Linked DNA regions of Homo sapiens. The protein of the gene in region 1 interacts with the protein of each later gene in a pairwise test. Each region holds a gene or a part of one and is shown in the gene's direction. Other genes may lie near its edges.

Region 1 (7,286 bases):
TGCTCCATTTTCCTTGTCTTCCTCTCTTTTAGGTACTGCTTCTCCGAGATGGCCCCAGTGTGTGCGGTGGTTGGAGGGATTTTGGCACAGGAAATTGTGAAGGTAAAACATCACTGTGGAGCAGAAAATTGTTAACCATGACTTTGTATATGTGCTGACAGAGAGAATGGAAACTGTCTTAGACAGCTGCCTGCTTTCTCTCACCCCATTCATCTTTGTTTCATGCCCTCCCCATTTCCACCTCATCCCATTTTCTCTGGCCCATCCAGGTGCCATTCAGCAAATGACCTTGGAGTGCCTGCTCTGTGCTTAGCTCACAGTTGGCCATAGTGCCTCGAAGGTGTGATCTGCTCTCCCCTAACTGTATTAGTTATCCAGTGCCTGTTGTATTGGTCAGGGATTCTGCTTCTCATAGCTCTATAAGTGAGTACTATCATGATCCCCACTTAAGAGGAAGACACTTGGGCCCATGAAAGGGACTCCAGAACCTGTGCTCTTAACCTCTGTACAGTTTATCTCTATTCATCACCATGACATCAAAGCCCTCCCTTTTTTTTTTTTTTTTTTTTTTTTTTTTGAGATGGAGTCTCGCTCTGTCCCCCAGGCTGGAGTGCAGTAGCACGATCTCAGATCACTGCAAGCTCCACCTCCCGGGTTCACGCCATTCTCCTACCTTAGCCTTCCAAGTAGCTGGGACTACAGGCGCCTGCCACCACGCCCAGCTAATTTTTTTGTATTTTTAGTAGAGACAGGGTTTCACTGTGTTAGCCAGGATGGTCTGGATCTCCTGACATCGTGATCTGCCCACCTCAGCCTCTCAAAGTGCTGGGATTACAGGCATGAGCCACTGTACCCAGCCGCACCCCCCCCCTTTTTTTTTTTTTTTGAGACAGAATCTCACTTTGTCTCTCAGACTGGAGTGCAGTGGCATGATCTTGACTCACTGCAACCTCCGCCTCCTGGGTTCAAGCGATTCTCCTGCCTCAGCCTCCCGAGCAGCTGAGAGTACAGGTTCCCACCACCACACCAGGCTAATTTTTGTATTTTTAGTAGTTCACCATATTGGCCAGGCTGGTCTCGAACTCCTGACCTTGTGATCCTCCCACCTCAGCCTCCCAAAGTGCTGGGATTATAGGTGTGAGCCACCGCACCCGGCCAAGCCCCCGTCTTTTTAACCACACACTGTAGGTATTTGTAGAGAAATCAGTTTCTGTGTCCCCATGAACACACCAGGAGCCCCTCAAGGCTCTGTACAGGATGACCCGTGACCCTGTTAGGTAGGTGTTAGTGTGTCTCTCAGAAGGGAAGCATCTTATACAGGGTCACATAACCAGTAACTAGCACAGCCTTTTGAGGGTCTTCTGGAACATTTGGGTTGCTAAAACTATACCATACCCCCAAATATATTGTACATTCTTTGCAGACTTTGCTATTTGCCCGAAGATGTTAAATTTGCCTTTTGCAGGTTCTTGGCTGCCTTCGTGGACTCCGGTGAGGCTTTTTCCTTCTTTCTTATGGAGCAGAGTCGTGCCTGGTTAAATGATTGGCCATGTCCATGTACATGTCAAGTTTGAGCTTGGGAGGACAGTTTGGAGGCCAGCCCTTAACACTTTGTCTTGGGGTCTGTACATTCTGGAGGCGTTTGGCTCAATTTGTTAGTCACACCGTTTTCCTAAGGCTACTTTTTTTTTTTTTTTTTGTCTATTTTTTCTGATCCTTCTCTCTGGTCTAAATTCTTCCTTTGATCAAATCTAACTTTCTTCTATGTAATGGGCACCGAGGAGATATTTGGAGGGGGAAGAAAAGTGTGCAATGGCCATACCTCTTTCCTTGCTCACATTTTATACATAGCCCAGAGTGATGTGAAAATTACAGTTTATATGCCCAATCTGAGAAGAGGGTAATGGCCACCCAGAGGACTGTTCGAGCAGGATTCTGAGGCTCCCTGTAGACAAACTGCAGGAAAGAGTGCAGCAATGGGAATGTTCTAAGTGGGGAATGGGAATGTACATATTTTTGTAGCCTAAAATGACGACACCACCAATAATAGACAAGACTTACTGAAAGCCCACTGTCTGCCACACAAAGACAGTGTTTTTTACGTGGATACTCATTTCATCTCCCACCGGCCCTATGAGGTAGGAACTCCTGTGATCCCTGGTTTATAAAAGAGAGACTAAGGTGCAGGAAAGAAGATGCTTGCCCAGGCTAGTGAGTGTGGTGCCAGGATGTGGGCCCAGGCAGTCTGGTTTCTGAGCCTGTCCTCTTCACCACGGGGCAGTCATGCATCAGGTGTTGCCTTCAATGGCACCATCATGTAGAGACTGCATGGACCCCAGGGCCGCTGCCCTTGCATTGTCAGCCTTACTTCTGCACATCCCATTGAGGGGCTCCCCCTAAATTTTTCATGTGGGATGGAGACTGGAGGTTGGGGCAGGTAGCCTTGACCCCATTGTTGGTGGTAGTTTCTCACATCCCCATCCTCACACAGCCCCCTCCTTCCTGCCTGCTGGAGACAGCTGGTGCCCAGCATCTTGTTTCTGTTTATCCCAGATAGCCAGAGTACTCTGCATTCTTCGTTGCTGGGTGTGTTTGGAATCTCCTCCTACCCCATCTTGCTTGGGAAGCACTTTACCTTTTGCCCCATGTCACCCCATGCCCTGCTCTCATCCCCAGTACTCCTTCATACTTATTACTGGTCAGCCTTCAGCCAGCTGGCAGGCGGGGCCTGCAGTCCAAGGGCCTCAGACTCACCTTTCTCTCCTGAGGCACTGTCTGAGCGCCTATGGAAAGCTTACACTAGGAGATGGGTCAAGCGCAAGTCTGCTCCTTTGGAATCATCTTTTGCGTCTTTCCTTTCTTACGTCCTTCTAGATACCCTATTTTATATCCATGTCTACTTCCTTGGGTTTAAAGCAGTTTTCCTTTCTCTCCATCCCCACCGTCCACGGCAGGTCTCCCTGTCTATGGTAAGAGAGGTGATAGTGAAAGCAGCAGCCATCCCAGGTTCATGGTAAAACACATACCATCTCCTGTATCTTGGGTTTGAGGGTCTAAGAGTTCCACCTGTGTACTGTTGGACCCTTCCACCTGGCTAGGTTGGTGGCATCCCCAGTATTGGTAAAGGACTCCTGGCCCTATTATTATTAATAGCAGCTCCTACTTACTAAGAATTTACTACGTGCTCGGCACTTTACAAGCCTAGTCACATTTCATTCTCACCAAAACTCTAGCAGGCAGGTGCTTTTTATTTGCCTATTTGCCCAGAGAAGCAAACTTCTTTCTGATCCAAGCTCCATGTGGACAGAGACCTCAGAATCCTTAATGTCTAGCTGAATACCTGGCATAGAGTAGATGCTTAATAAATGTTCCCTTGACTGGGTGCAGTAGCTCATGCCTGTAATTCCAGCACTTTGGGAGGATTGCTTGAACCTAGAAGTTCAAGACTAGCTTGGGCAACATGAGGAGACCTCATCTCTACAAAAGTCCCAGCTACTCAAGAGGGTATGGGAGGATATCTGGAGCTGGGGAGACGGAGGTTGCAGTAAGCCGAGAATGTGCCTCCCACCTGGGTAGCAGAACAAGATCCTATCTCAAAAAATTAAAAACATTTACAAATAAATAAAATTTCCCTGGAAAAATGGCTGACTAACACTATTTGTATATGGTAGATGTGATTGTCCCTGTTTTATGGATGAGGAAAAGGGTTTGGTGCTGAGTTTGAAGAGGAGCAGTTCAGGATGTGTAGCCCCACCTTCCTCATGAATGATGGGACGGTGCTCCTGGGAACCGTTAAACCCTGCCCTGGCAGCTTGCCTAGGTGATGTCTTCCTCTTTAAATGGTAGCTTGTGGTGAAATTTCAATCCTTTCTGGGTTAAGGACCTGTTTGAAAATTTGTGACAATTGTGAACCCTTTCTCAGAAAGATGTATGTGCATACAAGACTCAGTATGTTGTTTCGGGGGCTGACCCTGCCTCAAAAGACAGGGCCACGTGCTCACTCTCCTTCCCACCCCTCTCTCTCGCTCTCTGTTGCCCAGGCTGGAGTACAGTGGTGCCATCACAGCTCACTGCAGACTTGATTTCCCTGGACTTAAGTGATCCTCCCACCTCAGCTTCCTGAGGCACTGAGACTATAAGCACACGCCACCACATCCAACTAATTTTTTTTATTTTTTGTAGATATGGGGTTTTGCCATGTTGCCCAGGCTGGTCTCGAACTCCTGGGCTCAAGTGATTCTCCCGCCTCGGCCTCCCTAAGTGCTGGGATTACAGATGTGAGACATTAAGCCCAGCCCTGTTCTTGTATTTTAAAGTGCTCTGTCTGGTAACCCCACAAGATAATCACCATTGCCATTGCTAAATAGCATTGTCCAGGCCCTCTGGATCCCAGCCCTGACCCCCTGTGGAAGCCTAGCGACTCTATGTCCTCATGGAATAGCCCCCGCTTCTGCATCAGTGTGTTCCTTGATTAAATGTGTCCCCTTAGGTGATAAAGGCCACAGCCTAAGAACTGCCACCTTTCTCAGTTGAATAGTCATGAATAATTATTTCTGCTGTTTGCCCAATGGTGGTGCAACACAGTGTTAGTCATTGTTTTAGTTTTAAGGTGTTTTTTTGTTTGTTTGTTTTTTGTTTTGAGACAGGGTCTCACTCTGTTCCCCAGGCTGGAGTATAGTGGCACTATTACAGCTCACTGCAGCCTCAATGTCCCAGGCTCAAGCGATCCTCCCACCTCAGCCTCCCGAGTAGCTGGCACCTTGGGCATGCATCACCATACCTGGCTAATTTATGTCATTTTTCTTTTTCTCTTTTTTTTTGAGACAGAGTCTCACTGTGTCGCCCAGGCTGGAGTGCGGTGGCGCAATCTCAGTTTACTGCAACCTCTGCCTCCTGGGTTCAAGCAATTCTCCTGCCTCAGCCTCCCGAGTAGCATGCCACCATACTCGGCTAATTTCTGTATTTTTAGTAGAGACAGGTTTCACCGTGTTGGCCAGGCTGGTCTCCAACTCCCAACCTCAGGTGATCCGCCCACTTCAGCCTCCCAGAGTGCTGGGATTACAGGCGTGAGCCACTGCGCCCCACCTATTTTAGTTTTCATATAGACGGGATCTCACCATGTTGCACAGACTGGTCTTGAATTCCTGGGCTCAAGTGATTCTCCCACCTCAGCCTCCCAAAGTGCTGGGATTACAGGTGTGAATGTGCCTGGCCCTGGCCTGTTTTACATTTTTGAGATACATAGTTTAACCCAGGCAAATACATTTCTTAATCTCATGTTAGGAAAATAAGGTAATGTTTGGAGAGGTTAAATAATCTCCCCATGGACACACAGCTTGTAAGGGACAGAGCAAGGAGATAGGACAATCAAAATTGTCTCCAGACATTGCCAAATAGCCCTTTGGGAGCAAAATCGACCCCAGTTAAGAACCACTGCCCTAGACTGCTTTTAGAATTTTTTTTTCCCTCTATTCCTCTTAAAGCACTTGAGCTAAACCCTCTTTTCATTTTTCTCCCCAGGCCCTGTCTCAGCGGGACCCTCCTCACAACAACTTCTTCTTCTTCGATGGCATGAAGGGGAATGGGATTGTGGAGTGCCTTGGCCCCAAGTGAACTCAAGATTTGGCAGCCCCAGAGATGCCAACTGCAGCATGCCCACCTGTATTCCCTGTCCCCTTCCTTCATGAAGGCATCTCCAGGCAAGGAAAACTGAAGTCATTGGCCCGATACAAAACATTTCCTGCAACGAAGGAGGTGGTGCCGACGTGCTGCTTCCCATCACCAGCAGCTGCTCGACAAGGGGCGCAGGGTGGCTGTCTTTGTTCCAGCACTGTTCAGGCTGCCTGTCATCCCGGGCCTGCCAGCTCCCCTGAGTGATGAGCACTTCCAAGCACCCCTCTGCCCTTTCTCTGTCCTTATGCTGTCCCGGCCTCGCCAGCCCTCTGGGGCATTGTGGGAGATGCCTGCCAGGAATGAGCAAGCTCTGTTGCTCGGGAGCCTCTTGTCACCTTCTTGGACTTATTCCCCACCTGATACCTTATAGAGAAAAGTGTGAATTCAGGTGGAGAGTAGGCCCAGGCCCCATGAGGCACCAGTGGAAGCACAGCTCCAAGTTCAGACAGGTGCCCTTAGAGAGGAAAACCATGACAGGCAAATGCATTTCCTCTGGAGTTTGAGACCCTGACAAACAACAGGTGGCATCTGGTGTGCTGTTCTTGAGTTTTCGTTTAGGATTAGTTGAGTTCCAGCTGGGTTTTGGGAGAAAGGAGATGCTACCAAGTCTTGGATGTTAGGGCGAGACCCTGCAAGTTGAGTATTAGAGAGCTTGTCTTTCAAGGCAGGTTCCTGGGGCTTCAGGGCTAGGAGGGAGGAGCCTGCCCTTTTAACAGAACCCCAGTCACATGCGGCTCAAGTCACTCAGAGGCTGTTGCATTTCAGGGCTATGTTGGTCCTTTGTTTACCTCCTAAACCACAGCTGTTTGTGTTTCACATATGTTGTGAATTTTCCTTGGTTCTTTTTAAAGGAATGATAATAAAGTTACTTGCTTTAGGATTTGCTTGTTTTTCTTCCACTTCAGAAGCTTCTGAGAGGGAATGGGATGATCCTACCAGTTGCCTTTTCAGACCTGAGGCTCTAACTCAAGAGATTCCTCCTCTCCCTCACCATTCCTGCCACCATTTTTTCTGGGTGATGCAGCAAGAGTTAAATTGTTCACATTCTAGAATGTGTAGAAGCTTCTGGCTCCAGTTGTCTAATGGATAATTCAGCTAAATAGTGGCTATTTTCAGTGGCAAGAATTATAATAATAAAGGGAAGTCAAAAGTGATGCTTCATATGCCCCAAGTGCCACAGCCGCTACGGGTCAGAGCTTTTATTGGAAGACCAGGTTTGCCTTGATGCAGCCAAAGTGCGTTCCAGTTCACCCCACTCTTGCTTGTGTTTCTTCTTTATGTAAATTGTGTGATGTTTCAATAAATCAGTCTCTTTCCTATTCTGATCCTGCAGCAGTTAGTCGGGGAGAAAAGTGGTCTTCACTACAGAAGGGCCTCTGTTCCTCAACCCTGCATCACCTGCTCCCGCCGGAGGTGAGACAGGGGCTGCATTTCGGAAAGGATCCGTGTCTCGCCACCTTTAGTGCAAGTCAGTGGCGTCAGGGTCAGCAGTTACATTGCTGCATGAATTTCACGTGGTCTTTAAATTCTGAGCTAATTATACTCTTGACTGTAATGTGCAGCCTTGGTCACAAGGGGGAGCAGGTGGGTCTGGATTGATAAAAACAAAATTG
Region 2 (4,711 bases), on another chromosome or scaffold:
GGTTGTTTGGGGAAAGAGGGCAGAAGTCCAGAGGCTTCCAGGCATTCGTTTCCCTCCTGCTTCTCAAGCCCATGTCTTTTAAATCTTTGTTTTGTGTAAGATTCAGGGCTCAGGCCTTGAAGGGGAGGACAAGGGAGGACTTGAGAAAAGCCTAAGAGAGGACCTCCTGCCTCCACGGCTTACAGTCCCACAGTGCAGACACTGACGCAGGGCACCCGCCAGAATGTAACTGCCCTCCTTCCTGGGAGCCAGTTTCAAGAATGCCATCCTGTTGCCCCCATTAACCATCTAAGTGGCTCAGAAATACTCATGATTCAGCACCAAACCCTTAAACAGAAATCTTTTGTTCCACCACATTCCCCATATTTAGCCTGAGATGAAGACAGTATTCAGGGTCGAGGTCCAGAGAGTGAGCTTCAGCGAGCTTCCAGGCTTCTCTTCACCCCTCTCTTGTCCTGGGGTCCTGAACTGGGAAGAGAAGCTTTTCAGCAAAGCAAAACCCCACCAATGGGGGGACTTGAGGGATCCCACTAGAGCCTCCCTGAGTGGTGGCCTTGGGTGTATCAGAGCAAACCGGAGCCAGACAGAAGCAGTGATCCAAGGATGGCCAACCCCACAGGCACCATTGCAGGCTAGGAACCATCCATTCCCCAAGACCCCCTCTCCTCCCATTACCTCTTTGTATTCCAGAAATAACTTGAAAGGTGGCAGACCTGGGCCCTGTTTGCCAGATGAGTTCAACTCCAACCCAGCTTTCCATTCAATTTAGCCAGAAAAGACGAGGGCAATGAGACATGCCAGGGTTCAGGCACCTTCCCACTGAGCCTCCCCAGGCTGCCCATCCTGCAGGTGTGCAGAGCCTCACCTTAAGGGCCGTCAAGCCCAGATCCCCTTTGACCCCTCAGCAGTCTAATCTCCCTGGGTCTTAAGAAAGAAGACTCTCTGTCCTGGCACTGTTTGGGCAAGGCTAGGGAGGATCCCAATGACCTCTCAGTGCACTTGATTCTTTGGGGTTCCACATGCAATTGTTTTCTATTGCCCTCTCCCTATTGCAACGAGGGTGTTGAAGGTCAAAGCAGCCATAGGGGGAAGGGGCAAGAAGCCACTGTTCTCATTCTGGCCAGAAACTCAAAGGTGAGGCCAGAGAAGGAGGAAATAGGGCTGGAGAGGAGTTAATCTTCGATGATCAGATAGGCCAGAGAAATGAATGATTAACTTGTGTTGTCTTAAAGGTCAGCAGATGCAGGGAAGGCTATGGTGCAATTTTCCTTTCTGACCAGCAGTGTTGTTGTTATTTTTTTTTAATGTGTCCAGGTTCCCCATATTATTACAGTTCCACATCAAGGCCGAGTGCACCGCCCACCACTGCCACGGCCTTTGACCATCTGTAGTTGCCATGGGGACAGTGGGAGCGACTGAGCAACAGGAGGACTCAGCCTGGGACAGGCCCCAGAGAGTCACACAAAGGAATCTTTATTTATTACATGAAAAATAACCACAAGTCCAGCATTGCGGCACACTCCCTGTGTGGTTAATTTAATGAACCATGAAAGACAGGATGACCTTGGACAAGGCCAAACTGTCCTCCAAGACTCCTTAATGAGGGGCAGGAGTCCCAGGGAAAGAGAACCATGCCATGCTGAAAAAGACAAAATTGAAGAAGAAATGTAGCCCCCAGCCGGTACCCACCAAAGGAGAGAAGAAGCAATAGCCGAGGAACTTGGGGGGATGGCGAATGGTTCCTGCCCGGGCCCAAGGGGTGCACAGGGCACCTCCATGGCTCCATTATTAACACAACTCTAGCAATTATGGACCATAAGCACTTCCCTCCAGCCCACAAGTCACAGCCTGGTGCCGAGGCTCTCCTCACCAGCCACCCAGGGAGTCACCTCCCTCAGCCTCCCGCCTGCCCCACACGGAGGCTCTGGCTGTCCTCTTTCTCCACTCCATTTGCTTGGCTCTTTCTACACCTCCCTCTTGGGCATGGGCTGAGGGCTGGAGCGAGTCCCTCAGAAATTCCACCAGGCTGTCAGCTGACCTCTTTTGCCTGCTGCTGTGAAGGTATAGCACCACCCCAGGTCCTCCTGCAGTGCGGCATCCCCTTGGCAGCTGCCGTCAGCCAGGCCAGCCCCAGGGAGCTTAAAACAGACATTCCACAGGGCCTGGGCCCCTGGGAGGTGAGGTGTGGTGTGCGGCTTCACCCAGGGCAGAACAAGGCAGAATCGCAGGAAACCCGCTTCCCCTTCCTGACAGCTCCTGCCAAGCCAAATGTGCTTCCTGCAGCTCACGCCCACCAGCTACTGAAGGGACCCAAGGCACCCCCTGAAGCCAGCGATAGAGGGTCCCTCTCTGCTCCCCAGCAGCTCCTGCCCCCAAGGCCTGACTGTATATACTGTAAATGAAACTTTGTTTGGGTCAAGCTTCCTTCTTTCTAACCCCCAGACTTTGGCCTCTGAGTGAAATGTCTCTCTTTGCCCTGTGGGGCTTCTCTCCTTGATGCTTCTTTCTTTTTTTAAAGACAACCTGCCATTACCACATGACTCAATAAACCATTGCTCTTCATCTCAGGCTTTGGGGTTGGCTGGGGAAGGAGGCATCCCGGGGCTGGGCTTTCTCCCAAGAACATCAGAGCTGAGTAGCCGACAAACTCACTTTGGGGCCGTGGGCTGGAAGGGACCATCTGATGCCCCAGAGCTCTGGCTTGGCCTTCTCCCTCTGCCTTTAATTCACGTTGAACGCTGGGTACCTCACTCATCCCAAGTTCTTCAACACTGAGCAAATGCAAGGATAGCACAGTACTGAGCCAACCATAGACTCCCCACAAGGAGTTGCTGTTGTTATTAACAGGAAGCCAGAGAATCAGCAGGGTGGGTTAGTGAGGGATCCGGGAATAGCTGTGACTGGAGCCTGCATAAACAGCTCTGAAGGGAGAGAGAAGACTGGGCTCTCTTGTGTGCCAGGCACAGTATGGAAGGCTTCATATAAGTTAAGCTGAAATTAGCCCTGTTTTACATACAGCTTCATTTTACATATGAGGAAACTGAGGCTTTGAAAAAAATGAGATGTCTTGTCCAAGATGAAAAGTAGTAGATTCAACCAAGTCCTCTTACTCTAAGCCCAACGCTTTTACCCAAAACCCCAGAGTCCTCATCAGGGATGCCAAATGGTTCTAGACCCAGTGGAGGTTCTGGAGCTGCCACTGGGGATTTAATTTCTTTTGATTTGCTAAAGATTTGACCTGACTGAATGGAGAGGTAGAGTGTAGTGTGGCCAGGACAAGGTGAGGGAGGCTGTAGAGACTTAGCACTTTAGGCCAACCACCTCCAGGAAATCTGGGAAATGCAATGTGACAGCTCGGGCTCTGCACTCCAGGGGGCTGTCTGGTGTCCACATGGACCTTCTCCATGTGGGACACAGCTGGAACAAGGGGGCAGGGGCCTGCAGCTGGGATGCCCAGGTGAATATGGGCAGCTGGACAAACAACACTGGGATTGAGTCAGATAGAAGGGGCCCAAGGACTCCAGGGCTGGGAGGACAGAGGCTGGGAGAGAGGGCTCTTACCTCCTTAGGCCTCCCAAAGAGCGGTTAGGGATGCTGCCATGGATGGCATGGCAGGGGGAACCCTCCTGGAAGAAAATCCATCTCTTCTGAAGGGATCTGAGATGCGGCTGGTTTTTCAATGGCAGAACTTCCCTCTGCAGCGCGACTCCGAATCCATGACATCTGAGAGTCTTCCTGACCACAAACCTCTGGGATCCCGAGGGCTCCCTACCCAAGAATCACTTTGAGCACAGCATCCCAAGGAGCCCATAGAGCGATCCCTTGCATTCACAGCCACAGCCCCTCTGGGGACACTCTGTACCCCCGGCAGACCCTTTCCAACTCACAACCAATAAAGGGGCTTGGGCTGTGCTTTGACTAAGGTGACCATGGTTTAAAACTCGCCTTTCTTTCCCGGAGGTGAGCTGGGCTTGCCAGGAGCCTCTGCTCAGAGCGGGTGTTTGTTGACTGTGGGATGTGTTCCCCATGTAACAGGCCTTGGCTAGTACCCATCCAATATTCTGCCCATGGTCAAACCATGGGTCCCCTTTTCGGGCTCAGAAAATAAGGCCATTTATGTATCGGGCGAAAGAAAGACAATTCGACGTGCCCCGGCATTTGGGGTGGTGTTGGGAGGAGTCAGGCTGGCACATGGGGGGACGCAATGAAGAAAGGTGGGATGGCAAGGACAGGGAGGACACGCAGGGGGCTTTGAGGGTTGGCCGAGGGGCCACTTTCACCTGGGGTAGGGAGGGCGGCTTCTGTGAGTGGTCGCAGGTGAAGGGGGGTCGCTTTATGGTGCAGGGGAGCCAGGGGTTCTCTGGGGGTGGTATGTGTGTTTGTAGGAGAATTGGGGATGAGGATGGGCCCAAAACATTGCTGAGGCATTGAGAGCACTGAGGGCCTATCCCTTCCCCCTGGAATAATCCCTTTCACTGCTCATGTAGAGAGACCACCTGAGCTTCCCAGGCAGTTTACTCTTAACTTCTCCCTGGTCCATTACCCTCACTCCTCTTCATCCTCAGGTTCTAGCACAGGCCAGGCCAGCCCAGGGTGCTAGGAGCTTGCAGGAAATTCATGTGGACCAACCAACTCTGGCAGGTCAGTGGGTTTCTTGCTGGGAAAGGGGGCAGCTGGAACCCTGCCTGGGGCCCACCAGATGAACAGAATT

The links.
Region 2: the proteins of SAE1 (region 1) and PAX8 interact in binary tests that used the Homo sapiens proteins (3 or more experiments, as listed by UniProt).

The regions. Positions count from the first base shown.
Region 1 is NC_000019.10:47,203,639-47,210,924, forward strand, and holds the end of SAE1 (SUMO-activating enzyme subunit 1), read left to right. Parts: intron 1-32; coding exon 33-102; intron 103-5,520; coding exon 5,521-5,613; coding exon of another isoform or gene 5,614-5,687; 3' UTR 5,688-6,998; downstream 6,999-7,286. UniProt on the Homo sapiens protein: The heterodimer acts as an E1 ligase for SUMO1, SUMO2, SUMO3, and probably SUMO4. It mediates ATP-dependent activation of SUMO proteins followed by formation of a thioester bond between a SUMO protein and a conserved active site cysteine residue on UBA2/SAE2.
Region 2 is NC_000002.12:113,215,213-113,219,923, reverse strand, and holds the end of PAX8 (paired box protein Pax-8), read left to right. Parts: intron 1-1,314; coding exon 1,315-1,391; 3' UTR 1,392-3,927; downstream 3,928-4,711. UniProt on the Homo sapiens protein: Transcription factor for the thyroid-specific expression of the genes exclusively expressed in the thyroid cell type, maintaining the functional differentiation of such cells.